Regions from separate parts of the Homo sapiens genome. Here all the other regions are linked to region 3. The links come from fine-mapping of genetic effects on gene expression. A gene starts in region 3. Each other region holds a variant in brackets. All regions are shown on one strand. Distances are between the middles of the regions.

Region 1 (5,148 bases), 21 kb after region 3:
CTGCCTCAGCCTCCCGAGTAGCTGGGATTACAGGCATGTGCCACCACACCCAGCTAATTTTTGTATTTTTTTAGTAGAGATGGGGTTTCACAATGTCGGCCAGGATAGTCTCAATCTCCTGGCCTCATGATCCGCCCACCTCAGCCTTCCAAAATGCTGGGATTACAGGCGTGAGCCACTGTGCCTGGCCAAGTTTTCTATGTTTAGTAGAGATGGGGTTTCACCATGTTGGCCAGGCTTGTCTTAAACTCCTGACCTCAAGTGATCCACCCACCTTGGCCTCCCAAAGTGCTGGGATTACAGGCTTGAGCTGCTGTGCTCGGCCTGCTAAATCTTTATTTATGTATTTATTTATTTTGAGACGGAGTCTCGCTCTGTCACCCAGGCTGGAGTGCAGTGGCGCAATCTCGGCTCACTGCAAACTCCACCTCCCGGGTTCATGCCATTCTCCTGCCTCAGCCTCCCGAGTAGCTGGGACTACAAGCGCCCGCCACTACGCCCGGCTAATTTTTTGTATTTTTAGTAGAGACGGGGTTTCACCGCGTTAGCCAGGATGGTCTCAATCTCCTGACCTCGTGATCCACCCGCCTCGGCCTCCCAAAGTGCTGGGATTACAGGCTTGAGCCACTGCGCCCGGCCCCCAGCCTGCTAAATCTTTATATCCAGTCCAGAATTCTCTTTTTTTGTAAATTCAGATACAAAGTCTCACTGTGTTGCCCAGGCTGGAGTGCAGTGGCACAATCTCAGCTCACTGCAACCTCTGCCTCCTAGGTTCAAGTGATTCTGGTGTCTCAGCCTCCTGGCTATCTGAAATTATAGGTATGTGCCACCATGCCCCACTAATTTTTGCGTTTTTAGTAAAGATGGGGTTTTGTCATGATGGCCAGGCTGAGAGAGACATCAACTCTTAAAAAAAAAAAAAAAGAAAAGTGAAAAGAGAACAACAACAAAAAAATAGTTGAGCATGGTGGCATGCGCCTGTGGTCCCAGCTACTCGGGAGGTTGAGGTGGGAGGATCCCTTGAAACCAGGAGTTAAAAGGCTACAGTGAGCTATGATTGCACCACTTCACTCTAGCCTGGGTGACAGGGTGGGACTCCATCTTTTAAAAAAATTTTTGTTGTTGTTGTTTTTTTTTGAGATGGAGTCTCTCTCCATCACCCAGGCTGAAGCGCAGTAGTGCGATCTCAGCTCACTGCAACCTCCACCTCCGGGTTCAAGCGATTCTCCTGCCTTAGGCTCCCAAGTAGCTGGGACTACAGGTGTCTACCATCACTCCCAGCTAATTTTTTATTTTTAGTAGAGATGAGGGTTCATCATGTTGGCCAGTCTGGTCTCGAACTCCTGACCTCAGGTGAACCGCCCGCTTCAGCCTCCCAAAGTGCTGAGATTACAGGTGTGAGCCACCGCGCCCAGCCAGAATGTCTTTTCATTTATTTTTTATTTTATTTTATTTTATTTTGAGACGGAGTCTCGCTCTATCACCCAGGTTGGAGTGCAGTGGTGCGATTTCGGCTCACTGCAAGCTCCGCCTTCTGGGTTCACACCATTCTCCTGCCTCAGCCTCCTGAGTAGCTGGGACTACAGGCGCCCGCCACCACGCCCGGCTAATTTCTTTGTATTTTTAGTAGAGACGGGATTTCACCATGTTAGCCAGCATGGTCTCGATCTCCTGACCTCATGATCCGCCTGCCTCGGCCTCCCAAAGTGCTGGGATTACAGGTGTGAGCCACTGCGCCCGGCCGTCTTTTCATTTATTTAGGTCTTCTTCAATTTCTCTTAACACTATTTTTAGTTTTTCAGTGTATCACAGTACCCTCCTTTTTTTTTTTTTCTGTAATGCCTTTGAAAAAATTGGGCTGGTTGTGGTGGCTCATGCCTGTAATCCCAGCACTTTGGGAGGCCAAGGTGGTGGATTGCTTGAGCTTAGGAGTTTGAGACCAGCGTGGGCAAAATGGTGAAACCCCCCGTCTCTACTACAAAAAAAAAAAAATTGGCTGGACTTGGTGGTGCGTGCCTGTAACCCCAGCTACTCAGGAGGCTGAGGCAAGAGAATCATTTGAGCCCAGGAGGCAGAGGTTGCAGTGAGCCAAGATCGTCCCACTGCACTCCAGCCTGGGTGACAAAGCGAGACCCCATCTCAAAAAAAAAAAAAAAAAGAAAGAAAGAAAGAAAGAAAAAACTGGGCCAGTTGTCCTATAGAATGTTCTTCCTTCTGGATTTGTTATTTAACTTTTTTTTAATAGAGACGAGGTGGCGCACACAACCACACCTGGCTAATTTTTTTTTTTTTTTTTTAGTGGAGACAGAGTTTCACCATATTGGTCAGGCTGGTCTTGAACTCCTGACCTCGTGATCTGCCCGCCTCAGCCTCCTAAGGTGCTGGGATTTCAGGCATGAGCCACGCACCTGGCTTAACTTTTCTTTCTTCCTTTCTTCCTTC[C/CTTTCT]TTTCTTTTCTTTTCTTTCTTCCTTTCTTCCTTTCTTTTCTTTTCTTTCTTTCTTTTTCTTTCTTCCTCTCTCTTTCTCTTTCTTTCTTTCTGTCTCTCTTTCTCTCTCCCTCTCCCTCCCTCCTTGCTTCCTTCCTTTCCTTCCTTTTCTTCCCTTCCTTCCTTTCTTCATTCCCTCCTTCCCTTTCTTTCTTCTTTCTTTCTTTCCTTCCTTCCTTCGTTCCCTCCTTCCCTCCTTCCCTCTTTCTTTCTTCTTTCTTTCTTTCTTTCTTTCTTTCTTTCTTTCTTTCTTTCTTTCTTTCTCTTTCTTTCTTTCTTTCCTTCCTTCCTTCCTTTCTTTCCTTCTTTCTTTCTTTTTCTTACTCTGTTGCCCTGGCTGGAGTGCATTGGCTTGATCTCGGCTCACTGCAACCTCCGCCTCCCAGGTTCAAGCGATTCTCCCGCCTCAACCACCCGAGTAGCTGGGAGTACAGGTATGCACTACCACGCCTGGCTAATTTTTGTATTTTCAGTAGAGACACAGTGTCACCATGTTGGCCAGGCTGGTCTCAAACTTCCGGCCTAAAGTGATCTGCCCGCCTCAGCCTCCCAAAGTGCTGGGGTTAGAGGCATGAGCCATCGTGCCCGGCCTTTTCTTCTATTTCTTATATTTTCTGCAAACTGGAAGTTAGCCGCCTCGTTTCAGATGAGGCAGAGAAATGAAGAGTTGGTGTCTCTGTGTTGCCCAGGCTGGTCTCGAACTCCTGGGCTCAGGCAATCCTCCCACTTTGGTTTTCCCGTCCCCAGCCATTACATCTTTTTATAGAGATGGGGTCTCACTATGTTGACCAGGCTGGTCTTGATCTCCTGGCCTCACGTGATCTTCCTGCCTCTGCCTCCCAAAGTGCTAGGATTACAGACGTGAGCCACTGCTCCCAGCCACAATGCAACAATAAAAAGACATATAGCCCAATTAAAAATGGGCAGAGGATGGCTAGGCATGGTTGGTTCACACCTGTAATCCCAGCACTTTGAGACGCCAAGGTAGGAGGATCACTTGAGTCCAGGAGTTTGAGATCAGCCTGGACAACATAGCAAGACCCCATTTATTTTTTTTTTAGACCCAGTCTCACTCTGTCGCCCAGGCTGGAGTGCAGTAGGGCAATCTCAGCTTACTGCAACCTCCACCTCCTGGGTTCAAGTGATTCCCCTGCCTCAGCCTCCTGAGTAGCTGGGGCTACAGGCACGTGCCACCGCGCCCAGCTAATTTGTATATTTTTAGTAGAGATGGGGTTTTGCCATATTGGCCAGGCCAGTCTTGAAATCCTGACCTCAGGTGATCCACCCGCCTTGGCCTCTCAAAGTGCTGGGATTACAGGCTTGAGCCACTGTCCCCAGCCCCCATTTCTTTTTCTTTTTCTGCTTTTTTTTTTTTTTTCCTGAGACAGAGTTTCGCTCTTATTGCCCAGGCTGGAGTGCAATGGCATGAGCTCAGCTCACCAAAACCTCCACCTCCCGAGTTCAATCGATTCTCCTGCCTCAGCCTCCCGAGTAGCTGGGATTACAGGCATGCGCCACCATGCCTGGCTAATGTTGTATTTTTAGTAGAGATGGGGTTTCTCCATGTTGGTCAGGCTGGTCTCAAACTCCTGACCTCAGGTGATCCACCCGCCTCGGCCTCCGGAAGTGCTGGGATTACAGGCGTCACCACGCCTGATCCCCAGCCCCCATTTGTTAAAAAAAAAAAAAAAAAAGGTAGAGAATTTGAATAGACATGTATCCAAAGAAGATATACAAATGGCCAATAAGCACATGGAAAGATGTTCAACATCAGTCACTGGGGAAATGCCCATCAAAATAACAGTGAGATGCCACTTCACCCCCACTAAGATAACTAAAATAAAAGGGACAGATAGTAACAAGTGGTGCCAAGAATGTAAAGGAATTAGAATCCTCATACATTGCTGGTAAGAATGTAAGATGGCACAGCTACTTTGAAAACAGTTTGTCAACTTGTCAAAATGTGAAACATAGAGTTCCCATATGACCCAGTAATTATCCTCATAGGTGTATTCCCAAGATAAATAAAAACATATATCCATACAAAAACTGGTACACGAATGTTCATAGCATTATTTATAAGAGTCAACAAGTAGAAACAACCCAAATGTCCATCAACTAATGAGTAGATAAACAAAATGTGTGACCGGGCGTGGTGGCTCATGCCTGTAATCCCAGCATTTTGGGAGGTCGAGGCGGGTGGATTGCTTGAGTCCAGGAGTTGGAGACTAGCCTGAGCAACATAGCAAAACCCTGTCTCTTCGAAAAATATAAAAAAATTAGCTGGGTGTGGTGGTGTTTGCCTATAGTCCCAGCTACTCAGGAGGCTGAGGTCGGAGGATCACCTGAGCCCAGGAGGTCAAGACTGTGGTGAGCCATGATTGTGCCACTGGATTCCAGCCTGGGCAACAGAGTGAGACTCTGTCTCAAAAAACAAACAAACAAAAAAGCAAAGGAACCGTGCATGGTGGCTCACGCCTGTAATCCCGGCACTTTGGGAGGCCAAGGCTGGCAGATCACCTGAGGTTGAGAGTTAAAGACCAGTGTGGCCAATGAAACCAGAGACTGATAAAACCCAGTCTCTACTAAAAATACAAAAAGTAGCTGGATATAATGTTGCACGCCTGTAATCCCAGCTACTAGGAAGGCTGAGGCAGAAGAATTGCT
Region 2 (5,148 bases), 40 kb after region 3:
CAAAAATTAGCTGGGTGTGGTGGTGCACGCCTGTAACCCCAGCTACTTGGGAGGCTGAGGTAGGAGAATCCCTTGAACCTGGGAGGCAGAGGTCGCAGTGAGCCGAGATTGCGTCACAACACTCTAGCCTGGGAAACAGAGCGAGACGCTGTCTCAAAAAAATAAATTAAAAAAAAGATCTTAATGTCTGATTTTTCATTATCATTGAAATGAAAGCAGAAAATATAAAAATTTATCAGGGCCAGGCACAGCAGCTCACGCTTGTAATCCCAGCACTTAGGGAGGCCAAGGTGGGCAATCACTTGAGGCCAGGAATTCCAGACCAGCCTGGGCAACGTGGCAAAATCCTGTCTTTACTGAAAAAAAAAAAAAAAAAATTAGCCGGGTGTGGTGGCGTGCACCCGTGATCCCAGCTACTCAGAGGCTGAGTTGGGAGGATCACTTGGGCCTGGGAGGTCGAGGCTGCAGTCAGCCAAGAGTTCACCACTGCTCTCTAGCCTGGACAACAGAGAGACCCCCCGTCTCAAAAAAAAATAATTATGTGGAGAACTTGTGGATTTCTGAGAGACAATTTGTCTGTAAACTCTGTGTTGAGAACTATTGCTATAGCATAGCCCTATATAGTAATATAGTATAGTAGAGTTTACTGTAGGGTTGACTGTACTCAGTGTCTGGCGAGATAAGGCCAATGTTGACTATGAAATGCTCATCTCATTCTGGAAGTCTCGGACTCCTCAGAGATCACAGAAAACAGGAAAAGATGAACATGGATGCAATTCTTTGGAAAAGATTCTGCCTGTCTGTAAGGATGAGAATCAGCTAACTGGGGCCTTCCACAAAGTCCCTCAAACTGGGTGGCTTAATCAGCAGAAATGTAGAAACATATTCTCTCAGTTCTCAGTTTTGTTTTGTTTTTTTGAGACAGAGTCTCACTCTGTTGCCCAGGCTGGAGTGCAATGGCACGACCTCAGCTCACTGCAACCTTGGCCTCCTAAAGTCCTGGGATTACAGGGGTGAGCCACTGAGCCCAGCCATATTCTCTCAGCTTTCAAGGCTAGAATTCCCAGGTTGGCTCCTTCTGGGCACTCTGAGGGACGGGCTGTTCCATGCCTCTCTCACAGCTTCTGGCATTCCTTGGCTCATAGATGCATCACTCCAGTCTCTGCCTCCATCTCCACATCGCTTTCTGCCTCCATCTCTCTGTGCCAGATTTCCCTCTTCTTATAAAGACATCAGTCTTATAAAGGCGCAGTGGCTCATGCCTGCAATCCTAGCACTTTGGGAGACTGAAGTGGGAGGATCTCTTGAGCCCAGGAGTTTGAGACTCACCCAGGCAGCAAGGCAAGACTCTGTCTCTATAAAAAATTTAAAAATTAGCTGGGCATGGTGGTGCTTACCTGTGGTCTCAGATACTTGGGAGGCTGAGACGGGAGGATCACTTGAGCCCAGGAGGTAGAGGCTGCAGTGAGCGATGTTTATGTCACTGTGCTCCAGCCTGGGCAGCAAAGGGAGATCCTGTCTTAAAAAAAAAAACTGGGCTGTAAAATCGAGCTTGTGTCTGTAATCCCAGCACTTTGGGAGGCTAAGGCGGGTGATCATCTGAGGTCAGGACTTCGAGACCAGCCTGGCCAACATGGTGAAACCCTGTGCTACTAAAAATACAAAAATTAGCCGGGCATGGTGGCAGGTGCCTGTAATCCCAGCTACTAGGGAGGCTGAGGCACAAGAATTGCTTGAACCTGAGAGGCAGAGGTTGCAGTGAGCCAAGATCGCATGACTGCACTCCAGCCTGGGCAACAAGAGCAAAACTCCGTGTCAAAAAAAAAAAAAAAATTGTCAGTCACTCTTATGTCCTAACAGAATGTATTCAGTATTCAATTAAAAGACATTTTGGTTCAAAAAAATTAAAATTTAAAAAATTAGCCTGACAACATGGTCAAACTCCATCTTTACAAAAAATAAAAAAATTAGCCTGGCATGGTGGTGTACACCTGTTGTCCCAGCTACTCAGGAGTCTGAAGTGGGAGGATCTCTTGAGCCTGGGAGGTGGAGGTTGCATTGAGCCAAGATTTTGCCACTGCACTCCAGCCTGAGCAACAGAGAGAGACCCTGTCTCAAAAAAAAATTATTTTTTAATTAAAAATCAATACAAGAAATGGTTGAAAAAGGAGAAAGCTACTGACCAATATTTTAATAAACATAGATACAAAATCCTCACCAAAATACTAGCAAACTGTATCCACCAAT[A/G]TATAAAAAGGATTAAACAATATGATCAAATGTGATAGAATACAAGGTTGGTTCAACATCTGAAAATCAATTAATGTAATACATTGAATCAATAGAATGGACAAAAACTGCATGATAATCTCAATACGGAAAATGTATTTGACAAAACTCAATACTCCTTCTTGATAAAAATACTCAACAAACTGGGAAATGAATACCACCCATTCCTACCATAACTGATGAATATTCAGTGGATCATTTATGTTTTGTGCCTGCAGTTATTTACCTATTCCTTTGTAAAACACACTTGGTCGCAATTTCTTCTAAAGAGCACAACAAGGCCTATCTTTATCTAAACATCCTAAAAACACTCAGGAGTGAGTCATTTACACAAAGCACATTAAATATACTGGCAATTTTACTCTGAGCATCAGAATAAAGAAGGAGCTTAGAAAATTGCTTCAGTTCAGGCCGGGTGCGGTGGCTCACGCCTGTAATCCCAGCACTTTGGGAGGCCGAGGCGGGCAGATCACGAGGTCAGGAGATTGAGACCATCCTGACTAACATGGTGAAACCGCATCTCTATTAAAAACACAAAAAATTAGCTGGGCATGGTGGCAGGTGCCTGTAGTCCCAGCTACTCGGGAGGCTGAGGCAGGAGAATGGCGTGAACCTGGGAGGCAGAGCTTGCAGTGAGCCGAGATCACGCCACTGCACTCCAGCCTGGGTGACAGAGCGAGACTCCATCTCAAAAAAAAAAAAAAAAAAAAAAAGAAAGAAAATTGCTTCAGTTCATCAAAAATGAAATGCAAGTTTGCAAGTTATGATGAAGGAAGCTCAAGTAAGGGCAAAACACAGACCAAGGAGTTGGAAGGATGGCTGGGTGCAGTGGCTCTGGCCTGTAATGCCAGCACTTTGGGAGGCTGAGGCAGAAGGATTGCTTGAGCCCAGGAGTTCAAGAGCAGCCTGGGCAACAAACTGAGACCCCATGTCTACAAAAATAAAAATGAGGCTGGGCGCAGTGGCTCACGCCTGTAATCCCAGCATTTTGGGAGGTCGAGGTGGGAGGATCACAAGGTCAGGAGATCCAGACCATCCTGGCTAACACGGTGAAACCCTGTCTCTACTAAAACTACAAAAAATTAGCCGGGCGTGGTGGCGGGCACCTGTAGTCCCAGCTACTCCGGAGGCTGAGGCAGGAGAATGACGCGAACACGGGAGGCGGAGCTTGCAGTGAGCTGAGATTGCACCACTGCACTCCAGCCTGGGCGACAGAGCAAGACTCCGTCTCAAAAAATAAAAATAATAAAATAAATAAATAAATAAAATAAAAATGAAAAAATTAGCCATGCATGGCAGCATGTGCCTTTAGCCCCAGCTCCTTGGGAGGCCGGGCAGGAGGATAGCGAGAGCCCAGGTGTTCGAGGCTATAGTGAGCTATGATCACATCACTGCACTGAAGCCTGGGCAACAGAGCAACACCCTTTCTCTAAAAAAAAAAAGAGTTGGAAGGAACCTTAGTGATCACTGAGTTCAAACTCTTACCCTGAGCACCAATCTACTTAGACCTCAGCCAATCTCTAAAAGGTAATATACAAGTAGGCTATTTTAACCTTTGAATCTAGTCACTTGCTCAACAAAATTTTTTTTTCTTAGGAGACAGGGTCTGTCTCTGACCCAGGCTGAAGTTCAATGTCACGATCACAGTCCACTGCAGCCTCGACCGTCCTCCTATCTCAGCCTTCCGAGCAGTTGGGACCACGGGTGTGTACCACCACACCAAGCTAATTTTGTTTATTTTTTGTAGAGACAGGTCTCGAACCTTGCTATGTTGCCAAGACTGGTCTCAAACTACTGGCCTCAACCTATCCTCTTGTCTTGGCCTCCCAAAGCATTGGGATTACAGGCGTGAGCCACCACATCCAGCCCTGCTGCAAGGTTCTTAACTGGGGGTCCACGGACCTTCTGGATAGAATTCAGGGAAATTTGACATTTCCTTCAATTATGACTGTAGGCAAACATTCTGTTTCTACCACATGCCTGCTATGCCTGTCCTAATCCTTGACTCTCTAAAGTCATGAACCCTATTAGATTTCAACTACCCTCATATAGTAGGTGTTCAGTATTCCTCCAAATGTTCTAAATAAAAACTTAGTAGAATGGGCCAGTACAATGAACAGAGTTGTAATTGGTTTGAAGAATCCAAGATCAGGACTGTGGTAGGAACAGAAGGAAACTTGTTCCAAGTCTGTGAGAAATTTGCCCCAGGTCCAATCCCACAACCTGTTCCAATCCAGTTTCATTTGTCATTCTCACTTATGACTAATGAATTTGCTTCCATGACGGAAAACATTAAGAAATCACTCTGGCATGAGGTCACCCTACAAAGGAGCAATCTCAGCTGCCCGGAATGTCAGCGTTCAGTAAGGGCCACACCCCTTGCCTTTTCAGTAATTCCTCCTATTACAAAATTCCAAATGCAGCCATATTGTTGATAGGAAATTTTGTTTAAAAAATACATTTCTTAGGCCGGGCGCGGTAGCTCGTGCCTGTAATCCCAGCACTTTGGGAGGCTGAGGTGGCGGATCACAAGGTCAGGAGTTCAAGACCAGCCTGGCCAACATGGTGAAACCCCATCTCTACTAAAAATACAAAAAAATTATCCAGGCATGGTGGCATGCACTTGCAGTCCCAGCTACTAGGGAGGCTGTGGCAGGAGAATCGCTTGAACCTGGGAGGCAGAGGTTGCAGTGAGCTGAGATTGCGCCACTGAGATTGCGCCACTGCACTCCAGCCTGGGTGACGGAGCGAGACTCCATCTCATAAATAAATAAATAAATAATTTTTTTGCGGAACGTGGTGGTTCGTGGTTATAATTCTGACACTGTGGGAGGCTAAGGCGGGTGGATCTCCTGAGCCCAG
Region 3 (5,148 bases):
TAACGAAGAACCAGGTGCCCAGTATGTGAAAGGTTCAAAGGTGCCTACCTTTGTATGGGCCATAAGAGAATCAACTCATCTCTTATACACCATCCACTGGCTTTCGAATCCCAGCAGACAGCACTTAAAAAGCAAGAATCGGCCGGGCACAGTGGCTCATGCCTGTAATCCCAGCACTTTGGGAGGCCGAGGTGAGAGGATCACTTGAGGTCAGGAGTTCGAGACCAGCCTGGCCAACATCGTGAAACCCTGTCTCTACTAAAAATACAAAAACTAGCCCGGTGCCGTGGTGTGTGCCTGTAATCCCAGCTACTCGGGAGGCTGAGGCAGGAGAATTGCTTGAGCCTGGGAAGCGGAGGTTGCACCACTGCACTCCAGCCTGGGCAACAGAGCGAGATGCGAGACTCTGTCTCAAAAAAAAAAAAAAAAAAAAGCAAGAATCAAACATGACTGAGTTAGTTCATGTCCCTTATGAGTCACATGGGATGTGACAGAGTGAATTTTAGCCACTAGGTAAAAAAAATTTTTTTTAAGATAAGGACATCAGGCCAGGCGTGGTGGCTCACACCTATAATCCCAGCACTTTGGGAGGCTGAGGCAGGCGGATCACCTGAGGTCAGGTGTGATCAGCCTGGCTGGCCAACGTGATGAAACTCCATCTCTACTAAAAAAATACAAAAAATTAGCCAGGCATGGTGGCAGGCACCTAAAATCCCAGCTACTCGGGAAGCTGAGGCAGGAGAATCGCTTGAACCCAGTAGGCAGAGGTTGCAGTGAGCCGAGATCACTCCATTGCACTCCAGCCTAGGCAACAAGAGTGAAATTCCATGTCAAAAAAAAAAAAAGAGATAAGGATATCAGATTCTAAACTCCTCAATAGGACAGAAACCAGATTAGCTTATGTCATGCTGAAGTGCAAGCTGGAGCTGAAGCAATGATTGAAAAAATAGGGAAGGGCAAAATCTTGATCTTCAGGCAAAATACCTACCCAGGGTCCCACCCGGTTTCAGTTTTCCCCTTTGAACTAGGTCTAGTGGGAAGATGTACTTAACTGCTTTCTCTGAACCTTAAAAATCGGGCACAAGCCTTTGGCCAAGCAATTACCCACTTCAACTTTGCTTTAATGTAGACCAGCCTTGGGGCCAGGTGCGGTAGTTCACACCTGTAATCCCAGCACTTTGGGAGCCCAAAGCAGGTGGATGACTTGAGCCCAGGAGTTCGAAATCAGCCTGGGCAACGTGGTGAAACCCCATCTCTACCACAGATACAAAAATTAGCCGGGCGTGGTGGCGGGCACCTGTAATTCCAGTACTCAGGAGGCTGAGGCACGAGAATCGCTTAAACCTGGGAGGCCGAGATTGCAGTGAGCTGAGATCACGCCACTGCACTCTGGCCGGGGGGACAGATTGAGGCTCCCTCTCATTGATTGATTGATTGATTGATGGATGGATAGACAGACAGACAGACTAGCCTTGCTTTTTGCCACAGATTCCCTATACTAATCGAATAACTAAGCACCTGAAGTCAGAATACCTGAGTTCACATGCTGGTAAAAGGTATTCTGACTTCAGGTGCTTAGCTGTATAACCCTGGTCAAGTTACTTGACCTTTCTATGACCCTCCTGCCGAATGCACATGACGACAGCACGCTCACTGGGTTAGGGTTGATTAAATGAAATAAAACACATAAAAAGCTAGCCCAGAGCCTGGCCACAAGATGCCTTCAATAAATGTTCATTGTTATAATTTACAGAGAAAAAAAGGCCCCAAGTCTGAGAAGCGACATGCCTGGGGATTCTTGCTAAAGGTTATCATTAAATCTAAAAGTCAAACAAACACATTCCTGACTCTGGGATACTCTCCTGATTCGTGGATACCATCGCTAACAGTAGTGACACAAATCAAATAATAAGAACAGCCAGAATCATAACCCTAATGACAGCAGTGGCCACAGCACTTAATACTTATAGAGCTGCTAGGGGCCACTGTCCTAAAAGAGGAAGAAGGCCAGGCTGCTGAATCACACACACACAATTACAGAATCTTCTCCACCCTTTGTTTTAAAAAACAGTTCACTGGCGCCCAAGTTTTGCTAAAAACAGGTATCTAAACCGATGACGGACAACGTGTAATTTCTTCATACCAAAGAGGTGGGGCTGTGCAGGGAGGAGGGGGTGGCGCTCGGCTCCTGCCAGATGGAAAAGCCACATGAAGTGGAGAAACAGCCGGATTCAGGATTCACCCCCGAATCAAAACCCGATTTTTGAAAGGCAGGACCTTCCAATTCGGGCAATCGCTAGGTTCTGCTTGTAAAATAACCTCTGAACAAGTGTCATCTGCCTTCCGCGCCAATCCCCTGCCGCGGTAGAAGGTTCGGATTACCGGGCAGCGGTGTGATTTCGGAAACCCGAGAGCGATCTGGCCACCTCCAGCCTTCCCCGGTCTCCGAGAATCACAGCCCCACTTGAGAGGAAAACAAAAGCCGGGGCAGCGGGGGAGGCCGGGCCAGGGTGCCCTCCATGCCGGATCGCGGGCGCCGGGCACCCGGGGCCTGAGGAATGCTCAGGTGACAGGCGCGGCGCCCGGGGCAACAGGTCCCGCCCGGCTTCGGCCTCCCGGGGTCCGGCCGATCCCACATCCGCCCCGGGGCCCAGGAGAGGGAGCGGGGCGCCAGGGAGAGAGCGGCGCCTGGGGCGGCGCAGGGGCAAGGAGTCCAAGCTCCATCTTGAGGCGGGCGGAGGAAGCGAAGGCCCGGCTCGGCGCTGACAGGGCCGCCACTTTTCCAGCTCCGGAGGAGCCCCCCAGGGACCCCCGGCCTCCGGCGCCGGCCACCCGAGACTCCCGCGGTCCCCTCCCGGACGGCTCCGGCGCGCGAGGCTCGGCCCCGCTCCCGGACGCCGGGCTTCGACCCCCGACCCGACCCTGGGCGGGCCCCGCAGGCCGGGAAGCCGGCAGGGGAGCAGGGGGTGCCGGGAAAGGGAGAGGGCCCGCGCCGCCCCCTGCTCACCTCCTCGGACGCCGCCGGTCGCCGCCACCTGTCCCACTGCAGCAGCAGCAGCCGCCGCGGCCGCCGCCTCCCGCCTCCCGGCTCGTCGGCTCGGGGCGGGGGAGAGCGTGACGCGCCGCCGCCGCCGCGGGGCCGGGCGGGCGCGCGCTGCCAGGAGAAGACGCCGCGCGGCTCCTCCCAGCGCTCCGCCGCCGCGCCCGCCCGGCCGGCCCGGCCGGCCCGGCCCCTCGAGTCCGCACCGGCCCTGCGGCCCGCGCCCGGCCCCGCGCCGCCCCGCCGCCTCTTTGTCTGCGCCCACCGCGGCCCCGGGAGGACCCTGGCCCCGGCGCGCCCGCCGCTCCGCCCTCGAACCCTCCCGAGCCCCGGCTTGGGGAGCAAGGTGCGAGGGAAAACCCACAGGCCTGCTCCGAGGGGCTTCTCGTCATTTCTGCAAAGTGTTCCCAGAATTTGCAAGTCACACCCAAGAGCCCCATTCAGCCTCGACCTCAGCCCGCTCTTTGGGGCTGATTCATTTGTTTGCCCTCCCCTTCCCGCCAGACAAGGGTGAGAAATCCTTTGAAACAGGCTGCAAGGCGCTTCCGAAGCAGGTTAAGTTGGGGATTGGGAAGGATCATCTCTGCCCTCGCCTCCCTCCAGGGAAAGACCCTGGATGAGGCGTCCCTGGAGAAAATGCTGAAAGGAACTGTAGAGCAGGTTAAGCTTGGGAAGAACTGTATCTGCTCCCCACTTCCCTCCGGGAACGACCGCGGGTTAAAAATCCTTTGAAACGATCCCAGGGTTTGCTCCGTTCGTTTGAGAAAAGCCCCTTTTATTCGCCCTGGCTGCTTGGACGGAAGCCCTGGTTAGTGTCCCATCCTCCTTCCCCCCTGGGATTTCCTTTAAAAGCTTTTGAAAGGGACAGGAGGGAAGGCTGCAACAGCCTGCTCGGGGCTGGGGTAGCAGAGGGCGGCCAGCATTTCACTCCCATGGACCATGGCAACCCCAGAAGCCTTACATCTCCAGGGAGGAATTTGCAGCTGTCGGGGAAGCCCAGGATTTTGTGGTGGATAAGGGGGCAGGGGCTTCCTCCTCCTTGCCAGTAGAAGAGAATAATCGGCGGGTGACCCCTCTAGCTGACCTTTATTCAAAGCACCGTGCTGCCTGGACCAGCAGGAAGAGGGAACTGCTCTGGTAATGCACGAAGTTCTGAACTATGTAAATTTGTCTCCTGGCCCCTCCTCTCCATTCATGTCTGAAATCCCTCGAAATGCTGTTACCTAATTCAACATCGCCCTAATTTACAGGCTGCAAGGTCAGGTGGTGGTGGTACTCCTGAAATCCCATATCCATATTCCTAATCTGAAAGGCGCGCCTCACCCCCTAATCTAAACAGTCTTCAGCTGTAATCAGCAAGCTGTGGAATCATAGATGTCATAGGATGAGGCACAGACCACTTCTAATGGGGGAGTTCAGCTAGGAACACTTATGGGCTTGTCTTTTCTTCTCTACTCAGTAGGCTGAGCCTGTCTTTATTAAAAATATTGTTTTGGGGCTGGGTGTGGTGGCTCACGCCTGTAATTCTAGCACTTTGAGAGACCCAGGTGGGTGGATCACCTGCAGACAGGAGTTCAAGACCAGCTTGGCCAACATGGTGAAACCCCGTCTCTAACAAAAAATACAAAAATTAACTGGGCATGGTGGTGCATGCCTGTAGTCCCAGCTACTCGGGAGGCTGAGACACGAGAATTGTTTGAACCCGGGAGGCGGAGGTTGCTGTGACCAGAGTTCAAGCCACTACACTCCAGCCTGGGTGCCGGAGGGAGACTCTGTCTCAAAAAATATATATATATATACACATGTATATATATATGTATATATATGTGTGTGTGTGTGTGTGTGTATATTTGCTTGTTCTCATGGGTTATTCTATGTCATTGTCATGTTCATCATTTGCTTATTTATTTATAATTATATCATTTTGTTCATCATGGAGTCTTGGCGTTAATTTTTTTTTTTTTTTTTTTTTTTGAGATGGAGTCTCACTCTGTCGCCCAGGCTGGAGTGCAGTGGTGCGATCTCGGCTCACCGCAAGCTCTGCCTCCCGGGTTCACGCCATTCTCCTGCCTCAGCCTCCCGAGTAGCTGGGACTACAGGTGCCCGCC
Region 4 (5,148 bases), 31 kb after region 3:
GATTACAGGTATAGGCCACCGTGTCCAGCCGACTTCATATCTTTGGCCCATTATTCTGTTGCATTGTCTATTTTTAAACTGATTGTAGTGGTTTTTAATATATTATGATTCTATATGTTCCAAATATTTTTTCCCATACGTGCCCTGTTTTTTTTTTGTTTTGTTTTGTTGTGTTTTTTAAATTTTTTTAAATGGTGCTTTTCAATTAATAGATGTTTTTAAAACTCTTAGGTCACAAAGTATTAGCCTATATTTTCCTATAAAATTTTTAAGGTTTTTGCTTTTATTCTCCTGGGATAGATTTTTTGTGTAATTTATGATGTGAGACAGCAAATCAAAATTATTTAAACTCATATATGTGGGTATTGCACCTAACCATATATATACATTCAGCCAGGCATGGTGGCTCACGCCTGGAATCCCAGCACTTTGGGAAGCCGAGGCGGGTGGATCACTTGAGGCCAGGACTTCAAGACCAGCCTGGCCCACATGGCGAAACCCCGTCTCTATAAAAAATACAAAAATTAGCCGGGTGTGGTAGCACCTGCCTGTAGTCCCAGCTACTTGGGAGGCTGAGGCAGAGAATTGCTTGGACCCAGGAGGCGGAGGTTGCAGTGAGCAGAGATCGCACCACTGCACTCCAGCCTGGGCAACAGAGCAAGACTCTGTCTCAAAAAAAAATTAACAAAGTATATATATATAAATATATGTATTCCAGTAACAATATAAAATGTAACATACATATATGTGTAATATAGTTTAGTTAACATGTATTACAAAGAAAAGTTAATATATTAAATAATACATGTTATATATTATCTATTACAACTTATCTTTTATATATACACACACACCCACACTCTTTAGTTAATACATATATTAGGGGAATATATAGATAGACCTCTAGATAGACCTCTTTCCATATCAGAAGATGTAGATTACCTTATATTAAAAAAATTTTTTTTGAGACAGAGTTTTGCTCTTGTTGCCCAGGCTGGAGTGCAGTGGTGCAACCTCTACTCACTGCAACCTCCACCTCCCAGGTTCAAGCAATTCTCCTGCCTCATCCTCCCGAGTAGCTGGGATTACAGGTATGCGGGATTACAGGATAATTTTGTATTTTTAGTAGAGACGGGGTTTCTCTATGTTGGCCAGGCTGGTCTCGAACTCCCAACCTCAGGTGATCCACCTGCCTCGGCCTCCCAAAGTGCTGAGATTATAGACATGAGCCACCACGCCTGGCCCCATATTTTAAATTATTTAATTTTTTTTTTCCCTAGAGATGAGTTCTTGCCATGTCGTTCAGGCTGGTCTTGAACTCCTAGGCTCAAGCGATCCTGCTGCCTCAGATTCCCAAAGTGCTGGGATTACAGGCGCGAGCCACTGTACCCAGCCTCCTCATTTTTTTAAACCATTGCGTTGTAAGATCATAGTGTGCTATGATTTCAACAGATTCCTACCAATAGACATTTAGGTTATTTTCAGTACTTGCTACTACACACATTGCCACAATAAACAGCCTTGGGTGCATATATAGTATACTCGTATTTCTTTTCTTCTTAAAAATGTTTTTTGTCTTACCAAGAAGCTTGAATCTGAAGCGCATACAGTGTGCTTTTACAAACATAGTTGTAGGATTAATGCTTAGATTAGAACCACTGAATCTAAAATATGTACATTTACATTTTTAAAAAAATTACCCTCCCAAAAAAGAGTGAGCCAATTTATATCCCCACCAATAATGTATGAGAATGCCTGTTCCCCTCTACTTTAACCTTTCTTAAATGTAAAACCAATCTTACTCCATCAAATACAGGCCATCAGAGCCTACCTGGAAACAGCTATGCATATGTTCCTGTCAGATAAAGCCATTTGAATCCCAAATGAAATTCCTAAAGCTAAAAGGAGATAAGGGTGCCTAAATCTGCTGGGACCAGTCAGATGTTGAGGTTTATGCTCTGCTGGTCAAAAATTACCTTACATTTTATTAGAGTTTACATCAGTTATCACGATTTCAGCAGCTGGTCTAACTCAGACTAGCGGAGACAATAAGGAGACTCATTAGCTCACAAAACAGGACGTTTGCAACACGGTTCAGCTTCAGGGCTGGTTGATGTAGTGGCTCAAGCCGCTAAATTTCTCAAGCACCCAAAATCTTTTCTTCTCTTTCTCTGCCATTTGCGGAGGTGGCTTCATCCTTCATTCAACCATCCTAAGGTAAGATGGTTGCCAGAGCAATGGATATGATATATGATACATTTCTGTCTCATGCGTTGTGTGAGGAGACCACCAAACAGGGTTTGTGTGTGCAGCAAGGCTGTTTATTTCACCTGGGTGCAGGCGGGCTGAGTCCGAAAAGAGAGTCAGCAAAGGGTGG[C/T]GTGATTACCACTAGTTCCTTTAGGTTTTGGGATAGGCGGTGGAGTTAGGAGCAATGTTTTGCAGGCAGGGGGTGGATCTCACAAAGTACATTCTCAAGGGTGGGGAGAATTACAAAGAACCTTCTTAAGGGTGGGGGAGATTATAAAGTACATTGATCAGTTAGGGTGGGGCAGAAACAAATCACAGTGGTGGAATGTCATCAGTTAAGGCTATTTTCACTTCTTTTGTGGATCTTCAGTTGCTTCAGGCCATCTGGATGTATTCGTGCAGCACAGGAGATATGATGGCTTAGTTTGGGCTCAGAGGCCTGACAATTTCCTATTCATGCTTTCTTGTGGTTTGCTTTGCTTTTGCTTTTGCTTTTGCTTTTTTTTTTTTTTTTTTTTTTTGAGACAGAGTCTCACTCTGTCTCCCCAGGCTGGAGTGCAGTGGTGCAATCTTGGCTCACTGCCACCTCTGCCTCCCAGGTTCAGGCGATTCTCCTACTTCAGCCTCCCTAGTAGCTGGGACTACAGGCCTGCGCCACCACACCTGGCTAATTTTGTATGTTTAGTAGAGACGGGGTTTCGCCCTTTAGGCCGGGCTGGTCTCGAACTCCTGAACTCAGGTGATCCGCCTGCCTCGGCCTCCCAAAGTGCTGGGATTACAGGTGTGAGCCACTGCTCCTGGCCTTTCCTATGGTTTTCTAAGTGTGCGTGTGCATGCACACACACACGTGCACGCACACACGCACCCTCTGGCATGCATCTCCTTGGCCCAGGTGGGCCCAGATGGGCCCAGGTCTGTCCACCCTGAATATACCATGATCAGGGTAAAGTGAGTATTGCACAGTCAACTATAACATTCACTACTGTGCTTCCATTTTCAAAGACTGAAGCAGAGACTACCAGAAGTCCCGCCCCCCTCAAAGCCATTCTACCCTCTTCCTGTATCTGATTCTTCCTGCCATGTGACATCCAGAATGAAGACATTTCCTAACTTCCTGTGTTATTAGGGATGGCCATGAAAATAAGTTCTGGCCAAGCTGAAGTAGCCCATGCAACCTCTTGGAAGTGTGTGTGTGTGTGTGTGTGTGTGTGTGTGTGTGTGTAAGAGATGGAGGCTTGCTCTGTTGCCCAGGCTAGAGTATAGTGGCATGATTACAGTTCACTGCAAACTTGAACTCCTGGGCTCAAGCGATCCTCCGGCCTCAGCCTTCGAGTAGTTACGATTACAGGGGTGAGCTACAGTGTCCAGTCCAGGCAGTTTTCTTAAAGGGAGAGGGCAAACATTTATCTTTCTTTTCTCCCTCCTGCTGATAGGATGTGATATTGTGACATAATAAGAAATAGGCCGGGCATGGTGGCTCACGCCTGTAATCCCAGCACTTTAGAAGGCCAAAGTGGGCAGATCACTTTCGGCCAGGAGTTTGAGAGCAGCCTGGCCAACACAGTGAAACGCCGTCTCTACTAAAAATACAAAAGTTAGCTGGGCATGGTGGCACATGCCTGTAATTCCAGCTACTCGGGAAGCTGAGAAGGAGAATCACTTGAACCCGCGAGGCGGAGGCTGCAGTGAGCCAAGATCGCACCACTGCCCTCCAGCCTGGGTGACAGAGCGAGACTCTGTGTCAAAAAAAAAAAAAAATAGAAATATACATTTTGATCTTTGTTGCCCCTGGCTTCTGGCCAGAGCTCCTAAAACCTTTGCAGTTTCTAAAGCAAAAAATGTTAGGAGCATCTTTCGTTCTACCATTTGGTCTTTGACCCTGTCTCCTAATACGAGCGCCTAATCCTTTGGAATTTTCTGGGTGACAGGAAGACCTATTGTTCTAATGAAGCCAAACTTGGTGGGCTCTTGGATAGCTTCAGGATGGGGGCTGGTCACCAGAATGACCAAACCATGATTAGCATCCTGAAACTTTCAGCCTCACCCTCCGTCTTCTGGGTGAGGGGAAAGGGCTGGAGATTAAGTTAATAATGGATCACGCCTGCATGAAGAAGTCTCCATAAAGGCAGAGTGTGGGGACTCAGTCTGTAAACCTAGCACTTTGGGAGGCTGAGGCAGGAGGATCACTTAAGCCTCTGGAAGTTGAGGCTGCAGTGAGTCGTGATCATGCCTCTGCACTCCAGCCTGAGTAGTGACAGAGCAAGATGCTGTCTCAAAAAAAAAAAAAAAAAAAAAAAAAAAAAGGCTGGGCGCAGTGGCTCACGCCTGTAATCCCAGCACTTTGGGAGGCCAAGGCAGGCGGATCACCGGGTCAGGAGATCAAGACCATCCTGGCTAACATGGTGAAACCCCATCTCTACTAAAAATACAAAGAAATTAGCCTGGTGTGGTGGTGGGCGCCTGTAGTCCCAGCTACTCCCAGGAGGCTGAGGCAGGAGAATGGCGTGAACCCAGAAGGCGGAGCTCGCAGTGAGCCGAGACTGCACTCCAGCCTGGGTGACACAGCGAGACTCCGTCTCAAAAAAAAAAAAAAAAAGAAAGAAAAAAGAAAAGAAAAAGAAAGAAGGAAAGGCCGGGCGCAGTGGCTCACGCCTGTAATCCCAGAACTTTGGGAGGCCGAGGCGGGCGGATCACGAGGTCAGGAGATCGAGACCATCCTGGCTAACATGGATAAACCCCGTCTCTACTTAAAAAAAAATACAAAAAATTAGCCAGGCGTGGTGGCGGGCGCCTGTAGTCCCAGCTTCTTGGGAGGCTGAGGCAGGAGAATGGTGTGAACCTGGGAGACAGAGCTTGCAGTGAGCCGAGATCGTGCCACTGCACTCCAGCCTGGGCGAAAGA

The links. PIP is the estimated chance that this variant, and not a neighbour inherited with it, causes the effect.
Region 1: its variant is the best candidate, but not a certain one, in a credible set for the expression of CLIP1 in whole blood (INTERVAL, PIP 0.63).
Region 2: its variant is the best candidate, but not a certain one, in a credible set for the expression of CLIP1 in whole blood (TOPMed, PIP 0.54).
Region 4: its variant is the best candidate, but not a certain one, in a credible set for the expression of CLIP1 in whole blood (INTERVAL, PIP 0.69).

What each region holds. Positions count from the first base shown.
Region 1 is chr12:122,440,799-122,445,946 of GRCh38, forward strand. No RefSeq gene overlaps it. Among named protein-coding and RNA genes, the nearest start is that of CLIP1, 21 kb to the left of the region's middle. RefSeq lists an enhancer at 2,608-3,108. The variant C/CTTTCT (reference allele first, on the strand shown) is at 2,443.
Region 2 is chr12:122,459,914-122,465,061 of GRCh38, forward strand. No RefSeq gene overlaps it. Among named protein-coding and RNA genes, the nearest start is that of ZCCHC8, 38 kb to the right of the region's middle. The variant A/G (reference allele first, on the strand shown) is at 2,248.
Region 3 is chr12:122,419,514-122,424,661 of GRCh38, forward strand. It overlaps CLIP1 (CAP-Gly domain containing linker protein 1), which reads right to left and starts at 3,156. Exons shown (of 26, transcript NM_001247997.2): 1 at 3,008-3,156. RefSeq lists silencers at 2,453-2,852, 2,873-3,222 and an enhancer at 4,332-4,431.
Region 4 is chr12:122,450,801-122,455,948 of GRCh38, forward strand. No RefSeq gene overlaps it. Among named protein-coding and RNA genes, the nearest start is that of CLIP1, 31 kb to the left of the region's middle. The variant C/T (reference allele first, on the strand shown) is at 2,378.